Regions from separate parts of the Homo sapiens genome. Here region 2 is linked to region 1. The links come from fine-mapping of genetic effects on gene expression. Tissue or cell type: whole blood. Region 1 holds a variant in brackets; the other region holds the start of a gene. All regions are shown on one strand. Distances are from middle to middle.

What was found. PIP is the estimated chance that this variant, and not a neighbour inherited with it, causes the effect.
Region 2: it holds the start of MLLT11, and the variant in region 1 is fine-mapped to the expression of MLLT11 in whole blood (TOPMed, PIP 0.91).

The regions. Positions count from the first base shown.
Region 1 is chr1:150,982,885-150,991,018 of GRCh38, forward strand. ANXA9 (annexin A9) reads left to right here. Exons shown (of 14, transcript NM_003568.3): 3 at 206-296; 4 at 454-550; 5 at 1,091-1,185; 6 at 1,397-1,510; 7 at 1,702-1,792; 8 at 3,452-3,531; 9 at 3,718-3,777; 10 at 4,988-5,072; 11 at 5,207-5,302; 12 at 5,399-5,457. The coding sequence starts at 222. Among named protein-coding and RNA genes, the nearest start is that of ANXA9, 4.7 kb to the left of the region's middle. RefSeq lists an enhancer at 1-793. The variant G/A (reference allele first, on the strand shown) is at 3,298.
Region 2 is chr1:151,056,851-151,064,984 of GRCh38, forward strand. It overlaps MLLT11 (MLLT11 transcription factor 7 cofactor), which reads left to right and starts at 3,547. Exons shown (of 2, transcript NM_006818.4): 1 at 3,547-3,703. It overlaps CDC42SE1 (CDC42 small effector 1), which reads right to left and starts at 2,772. Exons shown (of 5, transcript NM_020239.4): 1 at 2,629-2,772. RefSeq lists silencers at 1,110-1,169, 1,180-1,229 and an enhancer at 3,093-3,684.

The DNA of each region.
Region 1 (8,134 bases):
AGAGGTGGGGAAGGTGGGGGCTCCCCTCTTACCTCACCATTTCAGCTCCATTTCTGGCTCCAAGCCTAAGCAGGTTGATCTTTTTTTCTGCAGCAAGGAAAGGAACAGGTGACTGGAACCCAGGGTCCAGGGTCTCGGGGGGGTCATAAGGAGTCCCTGAAGGGCCAGGAAATTCAGCTCTGTGGGCTCCTGTTTCCTTCCCCAGGGCAACCAGTAGCACCATGTCTGTGACTGGCGGGAAGATGGCACCGTCCCTCACCCAGGAGATCCTCAGCCACCTGGGCCTGGCCAGCAAGGTAGGGGCTGTTGGGATTTTAGAGATCACTTTTAGTATCTCAGCTCGGGCTGTGAGAGGATGGGAGGCAGGAAAGTGGAGGACAGGCCCTGAGGTTATGCTGAGGAGGTGTAGGCAGCCTGGCCCTGGCCCTTGCCAACTACCCTGTGCTCCCACAGACTGCAGCGTGGGGGACCCTGGGCACCCTCAGGACCTTCTTGAACTTCAGCGTGGACAAGGATGCGCAGAGGCTACTGAGGGCCATTACTGGCCAAGGTGAGCCCCTTTCCCCCGGCACTTGAGACTGCCTTTTAGAGCCAATCTGTAGACCAAGGAGGAGCCAGGAAGGAGGAACTAGTGATGTTGGAGAAATGTTTGTGGAATGCCTTCATTCTTGTATGTCAGGCGCCACAGTAGGTGTGTCAAACCCATTCTCACAACACCCCTGTGAGGCAAGGCTTATTATTTCCATTTTCCAGATGAGGAAACTGGGGCTCAGGGAGATTAAGAGGCTTGCCCAAGGTCACTCAGCTCATGACGGAGGTGGTATTCTCATCTAGGTCAGCCGATCCCCCCAAGTCGTATTTTTTTTTAACCACCACACCAGGCCACCTTTGCCTTGGTCTGGGTCAGATTTGCATGCTGTTTTGACATTTTATTTGCAACTTCTTTTGAGATAAAATGGAAGTGGGGGTGATATAGCCCCTGCTCCTTTCCTTCCCAGCCCTCTCCTGGAGCGCCTTCCCTCCTCCAAGGAGTAGGAACATCCCACTATGTAAAGACCCTGCTCACAGCACAGCCCTCATCTCGGTTCAGGCGTGGACCGCAGTGCCATTGTGGACGTGCTGACCAACCGGAGCAGAGAGCAAAGGCAGCTCATCTCACGAAACTTCCAGGAGCGCACCCAACAGGTGAGGCCATGCTGACCTCCCACAGCAGTGGACTGGGGTGAGAAACCCCCTGGAGGACTCGAGAGACAGCAACAGCCGCTGAGGCCAGCCCCTGCTTCCTGGCTAAACAGGGCCTGAGATGAAAACCAGCCAAATCTTCCCAAACCTCCCCACACTTCTGGGGCCCTTCCCCTCACCCCCGTCCCTCTGCTGTGAGGACCATTTATTGTAGGACCTGATGAAGTCTCTACAGGCAGCACTTTCCGGCAACCTGGAGAGGATTGTGATGGCTCTGCTGCAGCCCACAGCCCAGTTTGACGCCCAGGAATTGAGGACAGCTCTGAAGGTAGCAGGAGGGGAGACTTGCTGGGGTGTCTGGGGAAGGGAGAAGGCTGTCAGCCTTGCTTTTGCAAGACGAGAGTCCCCCTCTCGTCGTCCCATATTGTTTCTTAGAAGGAGAAGCAGCCAGCGTCTGCCCCTCTGTCTGCCATCCTAATGACACGGCCAGTCTGAGAGTAGACTCCCAATTTCTTGTAGGCCTCAGATTCTGCTGTGGACGTGGCCATTGAAATTCTTGCCACTCGAACCCCACCCCAGCTGCAGGAGTGCCTGGCAGTCTACAAACACAGTAAGAATATAGAGGGAGGGGTCCCAGATGCTGGAGAAGGGGCTGTAGGACAGGCCACTCCTCTCCTGTACTCCCCATAGGTGAGCTATCTGGCAACCTGGCTGCCTAAGTTCTATTCCCTTGGGGTCTTTCCTCTTGCCCCCACCAGTGCCTCAGTCTCTCAGGGGAGAGACCCAGATGTGATCATTAAAAAAAGAGAAGCAGGCCAGGTACGGTGACTCATGCCTGTCACCCCAACACTTTGGGAGGCTGAGGTGGGCAGGTCACTTGAGCCCAGGAGTTCAAGACCAGTCACAGGCAATAAAGGAAAACCTCATCTGTGCTAAAAATTCAAAAAAACCAGCTGGTCATGGTGGTGTGCGCCTGTGGTCCCAGCTACTCAGGAGTTTGAGGTGGGAGGATCACCCCAGCTTGGGAAGTTGAGGCTGCAGTGAGCTGAGATCGTGCCACTGCCACTGCACACCAGCCTGGGTGACAGGAGTGAGAGCATGTCTCTCTCTCTCTCTCTCTCTCTCACACACACACACACACACACACACACACAAATAAAGAGAGAGAAGCAATGATTAACCATCTTAATCTGGAGCTCCAAGGCAGATTCCAAAGTGACAGTCCCAAAGGTACTCATGTCACCTTCCCAGCCCCTTGCCATCCCTGCCATCACACCACATTCCAAGCTGAACCCAGCCATGCTGCAGCCTGAGGAAAAGGTGGGAATCTGCCCTCTGAGTCATGGGTGTCACCTTTCATGTCCCTGATGGCTGGCCTTGCTTGGCTACAAGTGTCTCACCCACTAATTTGTGGCTTTTTCCCATCCTCATCTTACCACCCCTTCCCCCCACCCCTACCTCTTTTTCTTGCTTTCCCCAATTTTCCTTTGATGTCTAATCTTGGCCTATGTTCTTCTTTTGAGACAAGGTCTTGCCCTGTAGCCTAGGCTGTGCAGTGATGTCATCATGGCTCACTGCAGCCTTGACCCTTCTGGGCTCAATCAGTCCTCCCACCTCAGCCTCCTAAGTAGCTGGGACTACAGGTGTGCCACCACCATGCCCAGCTAAATTTTGTATTTTTTGTAGAGATGGGGTTTCGCTGTGTTGTCCAGGCTGGTCTCGAACTTCTGGGCTCAAGCCATCTCCTGCCTCAGCCTCTGAAAGTGCTGGGATTACAAGCATGAGCCACCGCCCTGGCCGTGGCCTATGTTCTTAATCCCTCTCCTACCTTCCTTCCTTCTTGCATCTGTTTCCCTTTTCTCTTTCTTTTTCTCCCTTTCCTGCTCTTTTCCTTCCTCATATCCCACCTCTCATATCATTTTTCCTTACCTCCAATGAGGGTGCCAGGTCCTAACCATCTTGTGTTATAATACGGGTTTCCCTAGCTCTTCTTCACTGCCTGGCCCCAACTCTAATAATGGTTGCCTCCTGCCCAGCAGGTTGGTGCTTGGTGATGAAGCCACTGCACACCTCACAACTTAGAGATGTTTTTAGAGTGGCCGTGATGGTACTTGT[G/A]CCTTACATCCTGGGAATTAGCAGCCATCAAGCTACTCCAAGCAGGGGCTAGCAGGGCTGGCAGGGTATAGCGGGTCAGGCATTTGGCAGGTCCTGGGGATATCTACACTAGGAAAACTCAGGAGGATTCAGAGAGCTCCTCACCCCACCCCAGATTTCCAGGTGGAGGCTGTGGATGACATCACATCTGAGACCAGTGGCATCTTGCAGGACCTGCTGTTGGCCCTGGCCAAGGTGAGGAGGACTGACCTGCAAGGAAGGGAGTCACGTTCACCAGGCAAGGAGACACGCTGGAGCAGGGAGCATTGCTGTCCTGTAATGGACAAGAGAGGGCTTTAGGGGAGACCAGCCTTCGCTTGTTGGTCTGAAGATAAAAAGGTGCCCTTCAAAGAGCCCTCTAAGAACAGTTTCTCCTCCTAGGGGGGCCGTGACAGCTACTCTGGAATCATTGACTATAATCTGGCAGAACAAGATGTCCAGGTGAGCAGGGGGTTTAGGAGTGTGCACAGCCGCCATGCACATAAGATGCCTTCCTCCACCATATCTTAGAGCCGGTGACCTACGTGCCCATTTTTCCCGCAAACCCATCCCTGCCTTGGAGAGGGAGTTCTCAGTTATGTGGTAGGGGCAGGAGGTGTCAGGTAGCGTCATAGCTGAAGCCTTTTCACTCATCTAGCCTCTGACTCCTGAGCTCATCAACTGACATATTCTCCTCTCATGAGCGTTTGGGGGCAGAAAGCCTCCTCAGACCTTTTGGGGATTATTTAATCCTCGGGTACCAGGATTTTTCCAAATCAGTGAATAGAGCTGTGAGGCTGTAAGGGCAGAGCCCTCTCTTAGCCCTATTTCTTTCTTAAAAAATAAAAAACATAAGATAAAAAAACATAAATAAAAACAACTAGTAGGCCAGGCATGGTGGCTTATACCTGTAATCCCAGCACTTTGGGAGGCTGAAACAAGAGGATCACTTGAGCCCAGGAGTCCAAGACCAGCCTAGGCAACATAGTGAGACTCTATCTCCACAAAATATTTTTAAAAATTAGCTGCACCTGTAGTTCCAGCTAGCTAGGAGGCTGAGGTGGGAGGATCGCTTGAGCCTGGGAAGTTGAGGCTGAGGTAAGCCCTGGTCATGCCACTGCACTCCAGCCTGGGTGACAGAGAGAGACCCCATCTCTCTCGCTCTCTCTCTCTCTCTCTCTCACACACACACACACACACACACGCACACACACAAACCTAGTTTACGGGTTAAAATAAACTTTCTGGCTGGTCGTGGTGGCTCACACCTATAATCCCAACAATTTGGGAGGCCGAGACAGGTGGATCACTTGAGGTCAGGAGTTCGAAACCAGCCTAGCCAACATGGTGAAACCCCGTCTCTACTAAAAATACAAAAATTAGCCAGGCATGATGGTGAGTGCCTGTAATCCCAGCTACTCAGGAGGCTGAGCCTGGAGAATCACTTGAACCTGGGAGGCAGAGGTTGTGGTGAGCTGGGATCACACCATTGCACTCCAGCCTGGGTGACAGAATGAGAGTCCTTCTCAAAAAAAAAAAAAAAAATCCTTTTCCACCCTCAATCCCATTTCCATCATGATGATGATAGATTCTGGAACGTCATACCCATGGCTCCCTAGGCCCCAACCAATGATCCTGATTGACTCCTCCCTGACTCATTCCTCCCTCCTAGGCACTGCAGCGGGCAGAAGGACCTAGCAGAGAGGAAACATGGGTCCCAGTCTTCACCCAGCGAAATCCTGAACACCTCATCCGAGGTACACACAAGCCTTCTTGTCCCCCTAGCTTGCTCTAATGATCAGTTTGGGCTGAGGAAGGTGGGGAGGGCCCATCCTTTCCAGAGATAATTAATCCCCCATCCATCTTTCTAACTGCCTCCTACACACACAAGTGTTTGATCAGTACCAGCGGAGCACTGGGCAAGAGCTGGAGGAGGCTGTCCAGAACCGTTTCCATGGAGATGCTCAGGTGGCTCTGCTCGGCCTAGGTAGGGGCCTGCTCAGGATTTGTGAAGTAAGTCTCTCTTGGGATGGGAGATTGTGGTCCTAGTTGTGAACCTCCATCCTTCCATCTTTGTTTCCAGCTTCGGTGATCAAGAACACACCGCTGTACTTTGCTGACAAACTTCATCAAGCCCTCCAGGTGAGAGGGGCACTCCTTTCCCTCCCCAGAACAGAAACTGGGGAGGAGAGAGGAAGTCTCAGCTTGCTGCTTATGTAACCATCCTATATACACCGTCTAAACCTCAAGCCGCTCTCCTTCCCAGGGCTTACACACCAGGGCTTACACAGGGGTGGAGGAATGAGCTGTGGTGAGAACTAACTTAGTTGGCTCCCAGGGGCCCTGAAACTAACATTTTGGCCTTGTTAATGTCTAGGTGGCCAAATAGAGATATGAATCTGCTCTGTAAGACAGTGCCTTGTGCAGGCTTAGTTGTTGCCAGAGTGATGGTGATAACACTAGCAAGAATAATGACAAGGGCTGGCATTTTGCAGGTGCTGATTGTGTGCCACAGCCTATCCTGAGCAGGGCACACATATTTCAATTAATCCTCACAACCATATCCATCCGTATCTTATAGATGAAAAAACTGAAGCCCAGAGAAGTTAAGTACCTTGCTTGAGGTCACGTAGCTAGTAAGTTATACAGTCTCCCTACACAACACTTCACGATGTAAGATATTGACCATCCTTGTCAGCTATACGATAAGTGCTCTTAGCACCCAAGGCCCCCTTTCTCCACGCTGGTCAGATTTTGTTCCACATTATCCATACTTTTTTTTTTTTTTTTGAGATGGAGTTTCACTCTTGTTGCCCAGGCTGGAGGCTGGAGTGCAGTGGCACAATCTCGGCTCATGGCAACCTCCGCCTCCTGGATTCAAGCGATTTTCCTGCCTCAGCCTCCCAAATAGCTGGGATTACAGGCGCCCGCCACCACATTATCCTAATTTTTTGTATTTTTAGCAGATGCGGTTTCACCATGTTGGTCAGGCTGGTCTCAAACTCCTGACCTCAGGTCATCAACCTGTCTCGGCCTCCCGAAGTGCTAGGATTACAGGCGTGAGCCACTGCGCCCAGCCCATATTATCCGTACTTAAACTGCTGACTGTGGCTTGAGTGCTTCCACCAATAGAATCCAGTTATTCTGTTGATTGAATTAGGTCTCCTATTAGTAGAACTGTCCCCCAAAATCTATAAATAAAAAGTTCAGGAAGGGCGCAGTGGCTCACGCCTATAATCCCAGCACTTTGGGAGGCCAAGGTGGATGGATCACTTGAGGTCAGGAGTTCGAGACCAGCCTGGCCAACGTGGTGAAACCCTGTCTCTACTAAAAATACAAAAATTAGCCAGGCATGGTGGCAGGCACCTGTAATTCCAGCTACTTGGGAGTCTGAGGCAGGAGAATTGCTTGAACCTGGGAGGCGGAGGTTGTAGTGAACCAAGATCACGCCACTGCACTCCAGCCTGGGTGACACAGTCAGACTAAAAAAGTAGTTATCATTTTGGCAGATGGAATAGCTTTCTGTAGACTGGTTGAGAAGCCATCATGCCATGTTGATGATTGCCCAAAAGTTAGTAAATATAAGCAATTGTTCTGTCATCTAGAGATTTCTATCTTGACAGTAGATTATTATACTTGCCCAATAAAGCCTGTATGATTATAATGAGTCAACACTAAGATTCATTTGAAGAGTTGTACTTATCTGTCCAAATTCCTGTCATAAATACAAACTATCCCAGCAGTAGATGATTTTGTAGTGTATTTGGATTACAAGACCCACACTCTTGAGTGTAGATAAAAGATTTATCTTAGAAGTAGTAGTCAGGGGCCAAGCATGGTGGCTCACACCTGTAATCCTAGCACTTTGGGAAGCTAAGGTGGGAGGATCGCTTGAGGTCAGGAGTTCAAGACCAACTTAGGCGACATAGCAAGAACTCGTCTCTACAAAAATAAGAAGAAAATTTGCCAGGCATGGTGGCACCTGCCTCTAGTCCCAACTACTCAGGAGGATGTGGTGGGAGGATTGCTTGAGCCCATGAATTAGAAGTTACAGTGAGCTGTGATTACTCCACTGCACTTCAGCCTGGGTAACAGAGCAAGACCCTGTCTCAAAAAAAGAAAAAAAGAAGTGGTAGTCAGAAAATAACATAGGCCCATTTTTCTGAAAAAAAAAATTTTTTTTTTGAGATAGAGTCTGGCTCTGTTGCCTAGGCTGGAGTGCAGTGGCGTGATCTCAGCTCACTGCAGCCTTCACCTTCTGGGTTCAAGTGATTCTCTGGCCTCTGTGTCTTAAGTAGCTGGGATTACAGGCGTAGGCCACCATATCTGGCTAATTCTGAATTGTTTCTAAAAAGGAAAAACTCGGGCTGGGCGCTGTGGCGCATGCCTGTAATCCCAGGACTTTGGTAGGCTGAGGCGGGTGGATTATTTGAGGCCAGGAGTTCAAGACCAGCCTGGCCAACATGGTGAAACCCCATCTCTACTAAAAATACAAAAATTAGCCAGGGGGTAGTGGTGAGCGCCTGTAATCTCAGCTACTTGGGAGGCTGAAGCAGGAGAATCTCGAGCCTGGGAAGCAGAGGTTGCGGTCAGCCGAGGTGACGCCACTGCGCTCCAGTCTGGGTGACAAAGTGAGACCTGCCTCAAAAAAAATAAATAAACAGGCCAGGCGCGGTGGCTCATGCCTGTAATCTCAGCACTTTGGGAGGCCAAGGCGGGCGGATCACGAGGTCAGGAGATCGAGACCATCCTGGCTAACAAGGTAAAACCCTGTCTCTACTGAAAATACAGAAATTAGCCAGGCGTGGTAGCGGGCGCC
Region 2 (8,134 bases), 74 kb after region 1:
CGTCCACATGTCCTATCTGCCACTCTGCTCTGCCTCACACCCTATAGGGCCCAGGCTCCCCTCCAGCTGTGACCTGTTCTCCCCTCCCTCCTCACCAATTCTATCCTCAAGCTTCATCAGTGAACCAGACATAAGGAACTTTCCAATAGTACTAGTGTCCAAGGAAGAACTTCCTCCCTTCTCACTACTGCCAGCCAGGGTAGGACACATCTGGGTTTCTTCTTAGACTCACTTGCATTTCCCCAGTCCTATAGTACAGACAACCTCAAAGATTCCAAAAAGGGCAGTTTCATAAATATGACACTTTAACATGAACAGGAATCTCCCTTTCTTGCAGGCCGGGAACCCTGATGCTTTGGCACCCTAGACTGATTTAAAAACAAGAGATAGGCCGGGCGTGGTGGCTCACGCCTGTAATCCCAGCACTTTGGGAGGCCAAGGTGGGCGGATCACCTGAGGTCAGGAGTTCCAGACCAGCCTGGCCAACATGGTGAAACCCCATCTCTGCTAAAAATACAAAAGATTAGCTGGGCGTGGTGGCGGATGCCTGTAATCCCAGCTACTTGGGAGGCTGAGGCAGGAGAATCGCTTGAACCGGAGATTGCAGTGAGCCGAGATCGCCACTGCACTCCAGCCTGGGCAACAAGAGCGAAACTCCGCCTCAAAAAAAACACACACAAAAAAACGAGATAGCAGGGTGTGGTAGCATGTGCCTGTCATCCCAGCTACTGGGGAGGCTGAGGCAGGAGGATCACTTGAGCCCAAGAGTTGCGGCTACAGTGAGCCATGTTTGCACCCCTGCACTCCAGCCTGGGTGACAGGACAAGACCCTGTCTCAAATACAAAACACACACACACACACACACACACACACACACACACACACACAGAGGTTTTTTTTTTTTTTAACAGCCTTGAGATGAGATCACACAAACACTCAAATGTAGCTTCTAGGGGAGGGGAGAACCCAGGAGGCTGGGCTTTCTCTTCTCTTCTCACCACTGGAAGGGAGGAGTAACCAGAAGGAGCGGAAGCTAAAACACGCTGTCCAGAGAGGGGAGCTGTGGTCAGTGGGACGTCAGTGAGTCAGTCATAGGGTTTGTCCTGATGGTGGTGGTGGCAGGTGGTAAGGGTTGGGGAAAAATGAAGAATTAGAGGAAACCCCCAACACCAGCAGGCAGGCTGTACTGTGACTGGACTCTCCCTCAACATCCCCCACTCTGCTCAAAGCTGAGGGACAGAGGTGGATAGTGCTGGGAGGGAAGAGAAGAGAGGGGGAGGAGAAGGAGAGAGGGAAAGGGGCAGTGGAGAGAACAAGGCCATTTCTGTTTCTTTTCCAGGGACCTGACCAGAGCTGGGTGGAGGGAAAGCGTGTGTGTGGGACTTGGCATGAAATGACCAATGATGACGAGAAGTGACCAGGAAATTCCATTCCCTAGGACATTAGGGTCTCTGAAACTTGAGGGTGGGGTCAGAGTGTGAAGAAGACAGGTCAGGGTGAATGTGATGGTAGCGCAGGGCAGTGGGGGATGGGAACAAAGCCAGAAAAGGAAGTAAGAGCCACTGGCGGCCACTCTTCTTTAAAGCAGCCAGAAGAGAGTGGGTTGAGGAAAAATGAAGTCCTGAGCTGGTCAGCCCAGGCGGAAGAGCCACCCGAATCCAACCCCACAGTGAATAGGGAAGGGGCTGAGAAAACAACAGGAGGGATGAGGATTAGACCTCATAAGGCCACGTCCTGAGAGCCAAGTGGTGCTCAGAACTCGACCTCTCTGAGTTCCAAATGGCAAGAGTGAAATATGGAACCGGGAAAGCCACCCCCCGCCCCCACCAAGATCATACTAGGACTTGAGGGTCTCAGAGCTGTTGGGAGGTGAGCAGAAGGGATGGGAAAGAGGTGCCAGGGAGGAAGGATGTACAGGCTAGTTCTCTGGTCCTGTTCGGGCCCCAAACCGGTTCTCCCGGTCCCACCGCCTCTGGCCCTAAGGCCTCCAACCCGCGGCCTGACAAGCCCTCACATGAAGCAGCTGGAGAGAAAGAAAGAATCGAGAGAATGGCATGGGCAATTCTGGCTAGAAGCCCGGGGCAGCAGCTGGTCCCTGTGTGGAGACCCCGAGACATGGAGGGCTGCTGAGGGACTCTGGAGAAGCGGTGTGGACTCCATATTTCAGCCAAGTGACAGGCCCAACACCAACCTTCCCTTCCCCAGGAAAGGTCTTCTGGGGGCTTAAGAGGAAAGAGGGCTAGGCCCTAAGCCTCCCCTCCCCAAATATATTCAATCACACAGATTCCGTATCTGTCTCCCCCCACTACACAACTCTACCTAGAAGTTCTCTGCTGTTCTCAACCCTTAACCGGACTGGGACCTCTCTGGGAATCTTTCGGACCCTCTCCCTCCCACCTCCCCCAACATTCCAGTTCCTTCTTTTCCTTCTACTCTTCAGCGGCCTCAGCCTGCGCACCCCAGGAGCGTGGATGACTACGGCCACCCCGGGCGCGCACCCCTTTCCCACCACCCCAGCATCTCTGCAGCCCAGGACACCCGCCTCCCCCACACCCCGCATCCGGTGTGTCTCCGCCTGGCCCGGCCGGCGCGGCAGGCGGGCCAGGGGACCAACTGCACGGCCTCACCTGCTCTTCTCCACCATCCAGACGTTCAGCTACAGCTGGTGGGGGTGAGGGACTCTGCTCCGTGGCCGCCAGTGTGGGCTTCCCGGGCTAGCTCTGCGGCGAGGTGGGGGAGCCGAGTACGAGCCGGCAGAGGTGGGGCCGGCTGAGGGCGGAAGCGGCGGCGACGCGATTACGAAACCCGTCCGGCTCGGAGCCCGGCGCACTGCTCCCCTCTGGACTGCGGAGGCACTGCACTGCGCGGGACGTGGGAGGGTGCCTCTGCAGCCCCTCAAGGCCGCCGCCCCTGCGGGGAGAACTGGAGAATGCGGACACCTAGATGAGGCCCTGGCACCCAAGCTGGGGCCCCCGGAATCTCACGTTCCCTTTACTCGCCAGGCATTTCGGGGCAAAACGAAGCGGAGCCCCCCAAACCCCCAGACCTAACCAAGTTCAGAGATTCGCAGAAGCACGCCCCCCACCCCAAATTTATTGTGCTCTACCCAAAATGGAATAGGACTAGGTTTATTTACCCATTGTGAGGGTAGAGAGGCGAGTCTGGAGGAGCAGGGATTGGGAGAAGGGGTGGAAAAATACTCTGATTCTTAAAAATACTTTGTAACCTAAAGTCCTTAAATTGTGGAAGAAAGGAATACTCCTCCTTTCCATTGTAGTCTAGAGTTAAGATTTCAAATCCATAAATTAGAGGACCTAAAATTAGAGGGCAATTAACTGCTCATTCATTGGGCCCCCAGTCAGCACGGGGGTGCTGGAAGAGATCGGGAATAATAGCGCAGACCAATGAGCCTAGGGAGATGCTTTCATCGTCTCTCCTTCCCTCAAGTGTTCTGGAACCTATCATTTGAATTAGCCGAGTCAGGCAGGAGGGGGCGGGGAATCCTTCCGCCCTTCTTAGGAGGGGCTGCATTGCAGGGGGAGAGTGAACTGACAGACTCAGTCACTGAAGAGGGAAAAGGAGTGAGAAGACAAAGCCGTCAAAGCCCCAACAGCTTTGTATTTCTCCAGCCCGGCGCAGACCCCGGAGCTCCCGAGGCACTCCCTCCATCTTTGGAACACGCCAGTAATTGATTGATAACAGGTAAACCAAACTGAGGGAGGGGGCAGGGGGCTGCAAAGATAGAAGAGCGGCTGCTTATGGTTAGATTGAAAGACCCCACATGAGGTGGGGGACAGCTGAAGAGGAGAGAAGGGGGCGCTATGAACAATGGGTAGTTATTTCTTCACAGCATCCATGCCTTGTTACCTTATACAGACCATTAATCTCTAACAATTTACTTGTAGTTATTTCTCAGCACCTACCTCATTTCAAGTATCCTTTTCTGTAATTTATTGTCCTGTGTATTTAATATCTTCAGTCTACTTATCTTCCTTTTCAAACCATAATTTGTTTTACCAGCTGTTTAATTTTTAGTCCTACTGTATCTCTCTGTCCTCTACTTCCCTATACTTGCAATTTTTTTCTGTAGTGTTCTATGTTTCTCTGTAGGAGGGAGTTTGGGAGGGGGTTATATGGGATAATGTTGGGTGTAATCCTGACCTTTCTTTGGATAATCTCTTTCATTCCACCTCGAATCTTTGCTCCAAAGAAAGAGGCAGCCTAGGGTAGGAAAGGTGGGGGCCTCTGTGTTGGAGAACTGCCTGATTCCATAGTGAAATCAGTATAGCCCACAGGAGCTAGGTATGGGGACAGATTCTGGAAAAGAATGATTTGCAGCTCAGTGGAATTGGTGGAGGAATGCTAGTAGGAAAATCCAAGCTCTGACTGAGGCACACATTATGAGATGTCAGAGAGGTTCTGCTCCCCTCTACCACCACCACCACCTTGTCCTTCCCCCTTCCCCATGGTGGCAGCATGACACAGCAAGGCCCTGTTGAGTAGGCCTTGGATGCCCACAAAGGGTCTGGACAAAGGATATTTGGGCGTGTCTGTGTGGCTCCGAGAGTGTATCTTTCTAATCTATACATTTGCTAATCATGTATCTCTAAGAACAGAGTGATAATTAGATATTGCCTTTGCCTAAAATACCCGGATAATTTAAAGTGAAGGATAGTGGGAAGCATTTATTGAACATATATTGTGGTACAAGGCACTGTCAAAACCCTTTAAGTAAATGATACCATTTAAGATAATGAAAGATGTAAAGATAGATGAAGTAGGGCTGGAGAGCATTTGTGGAGGGGAAGGGGAAGCTAGCCAAAAAAGGATCTTTTGCGAAATTTGGAGTATTTGATAATTAAATCCATACTATATTAAATCAAAAATGTCATTACTACTTACATTAGTGAATAGCATTTTAACTTCAATTTTCTGTGTAGTATTACTTTATGTTCTTGACTTGATTTTAATGCCACGTATGTTTGCATGCATGTCTTTCTTGAATGTATTTGGTACCCTGTGTACATGTCTCTGGGTCAATGACATAGAGATTTTAGGCCTTTTGAGTTAATATTTCATAAAATTTGCTTTAGCTTTTTAAATTGCAAGATAGCTCTACCAAACACTCAGGGACTGTTTGAGCAGTTTTTTATACATACTCTGGTTGTAAGAAAAGGAGTCAGTTTGTCGAAGAGCTTTTTTTTTTTTCTCAGATTCTAGCTTGCTCTACTGCCCTTTGCTTTTCCCCATTCAGATCACAATTACAGGAACAATCACCTAAACCACGGAAAATCTATTCTTCAGCAACTAAAAATTCTTTTAAGTTTTGGGAATACTGGTATAGGGTTATATAAAGCTGTTGGCAACTATCCATGTACAACACAAAAAGGGATCAGATTGGGAATTATGAGATCTGGATTCTATACAAACTGGCTGGAAGTCTTCCCAAGTCATTAATTTCTAAGATGTCTTCTAGTTTTAAAATTCTATGATTTTTTCCCCCCATGATTCTATTTTTTTTTTTTTTTTAAGATGGAGTCTCGCTCTGTTGCCCAGGCTGGAGTGCAGTGGTGCAATCTTGGCTCACTGCAACCTCCACCTCCCCAGTTCAAGCGATTCTCCTGCCTCAGCCTCCCGAGTAGCTGGGATTATAGGCGCCTGCCACCACACCTGGCTAATTTTTGTATTTTTAGTAAAGACGGGGTTTCACTATCTTGGCCAGGCTGGTCTCGAATTCCTGACCTTGTGATCCACCTGCCTCGGCCTCCCAAAGTGCTGAGATTACAGGCGTGTGCCACCGCGCCTGGCCCCATGATTCTATTTTTTAAAGAGCCTATAATGTGGCCTGCATTATACTAAGCTCATTCTGGAGAAGACTTGTCAGGTAGGATAGAGAAAAGAACCCAGCTAGCTGTGAAAATAACTGGTAACAGTAAGAATCCCTGTAGCCACAAGTCCATAACAGTATTGACTCCTAGGTATGCTTCTTAGAATCTCTATAGTCCCAGATTTAAGCAGTGGGTGGTTGGTTAATGGATACAACCATTTTTTGTAGCTCTCTTTCTGCACACGTCTCTGCAAAGTACTATGGAGATTATCAGAGTTGAGTATCATAGGATGATGACCTCACCTTTCCAACATGCTCCCCGACCCTGCTGCAATCCCGGCATCACCCTCCTTCTAAGCAGCTTCTCTGCTGAGTAATGCTCAGTTCCCAGGGTTTATTTTGGAACTTAAACTAAGAAAAAGAACAACTCAGAATTCACTTTCAACATTAAAAACATCCTAGCCTACCCACTCACCATTCCTGAAGCCCCCACACTCTCACACATCACTGTGTTCTAGATTAACACTTTCTTTTTCTGCCTTAGTACAGTCATTTCACATTATACTGGAGCATTTTGGAACCTATTTAAGGCCATTATTTAGGAGTCTCTGGCCTGGTGAGACCCAATAGGGTGTGTTGGAGAAAGGCCTTTTGAAACTTGGGGTTCTGTTTTTGGAGGTGATAGAATGTTCTTTCTGCTCCTTTGGGAACATTTCAACTAATGCTTCTTTTTTTAATTTTTATTTATTTATTATTATTATTATTGAGACGGAGTCTTGCTCTTTCGCCCAGGCTGGAGTGCAGTGGCGCTATCTCAGCTCACCGCAAGCTCCGCCTCCCAGGTTCGCGCCATTCTCCTGCCTCAGCCTCCCAAGTAGCTGGGACTACAGGCGCCCACCACCGCGCCCGGCTTAATATTTGTACTTTTAGTAGAGACGGGGTTTCACCGTGTTAGCCAGGATGGTCTCGATCTCCTGACCTCGTGATCCACCCGCCTCGGCCTCCCAAAGTGCTGGGATTACAGGCGTAAGCCACCACGCCCGACCACAACTAATGCTTCTTGACCCTTGGCTAGTAAGTAGCAGGGTGGAGGCTGTAGGCAGCTCTAATAGTCCTAAAATATCAGGCAGGGCTTGGGTAGAATGAGTAGAGAAAGTGATAGATCCATTAACGCATGGAAGAGTATCTGATTCTGTTAAAATACCTTCTTCCAATCTGAACTTTACTTTAAATCCAAATGGATTTCCAATCCATTTGCTCTCATTATCATCAGTATACTCGAGCACTGGGATCAGAGAAAAGAGATCCCTGTTACAGCATAGGAAAGTTATTTATTTATTTATTTATTATTACTTTTTTTGAGATGGAGTTTCGCTCTTGTTGCCCAGGCTGGAGTGCAATGGCGAGATCTCGGCTCACTGCAACCTCCACCTCCCAGGTTCAAGCAATTTTCCTGCCTCAGCCTCCCAAATAACTGGGATTACAGGCATGCGCCACCTCGCCTGGCTAATTTTGTATTTTTAATAGAGACAGGATTTCACCATGTTGGTTGGGCTGGTCTTGAACTCCTCACCTCCTGATCTGCCTGCCTCGGCCTCCCAAAGTGCTGGGATTATAGGCGTAAGCCACTGCACCTGGCTAGGAAAGTTCTTTTAGCACCTAGGTTTTGTTCTGAAGGAGAGGTAGGCTAGAGAGAAATGGATTGTTAAGGCTTACCTGTGGGCTAATATAAGGGAATGGCAAGGTATTAATTAAATAGTGAGGGAAAGTTAATCAGCAGCCTTGAATGGCTTTGTGTACAAAGCCCACCACTTGTGTACAGAGAAAGTAGATTGGTCTTTACCCTTGGGGAAACTCCTAGGTATGGGGACAGATTCTGGAAAAGAATGATTATTTGCAATTCAGTGGAACTGGTGAGGGAATGCTAATAGGAAAATCCAAGCTCTGACTGAGGCACGCATGGTGAGATGCCAGAGAGCTTCTGCTCCCCTCTACCACCACCTTGTCCTCCCCCTTTCCCCATGGTGGCAGCATGACACAGCAAGGCCCTGTTGAGTAGGCCTTGGATGCCCACAAAGGGTCTGGACAAAGGATGTTTGGGCGTGTCTGTGTGGCTCCGAGAGAGTGTATCTTTCTAATCTACATATTTGCTAATCATGTATCTCTAAGAACAGAGTGATAATTAGATATTGCCTTTGCCTAAAATACCTGGATAATTTAAAATGAAGGATAATGGGAAGCATTTATTGAATATATATTGTGGTACAAGGCACTGTCAACCCTTTAAGTAAATGATACCGTTTAAG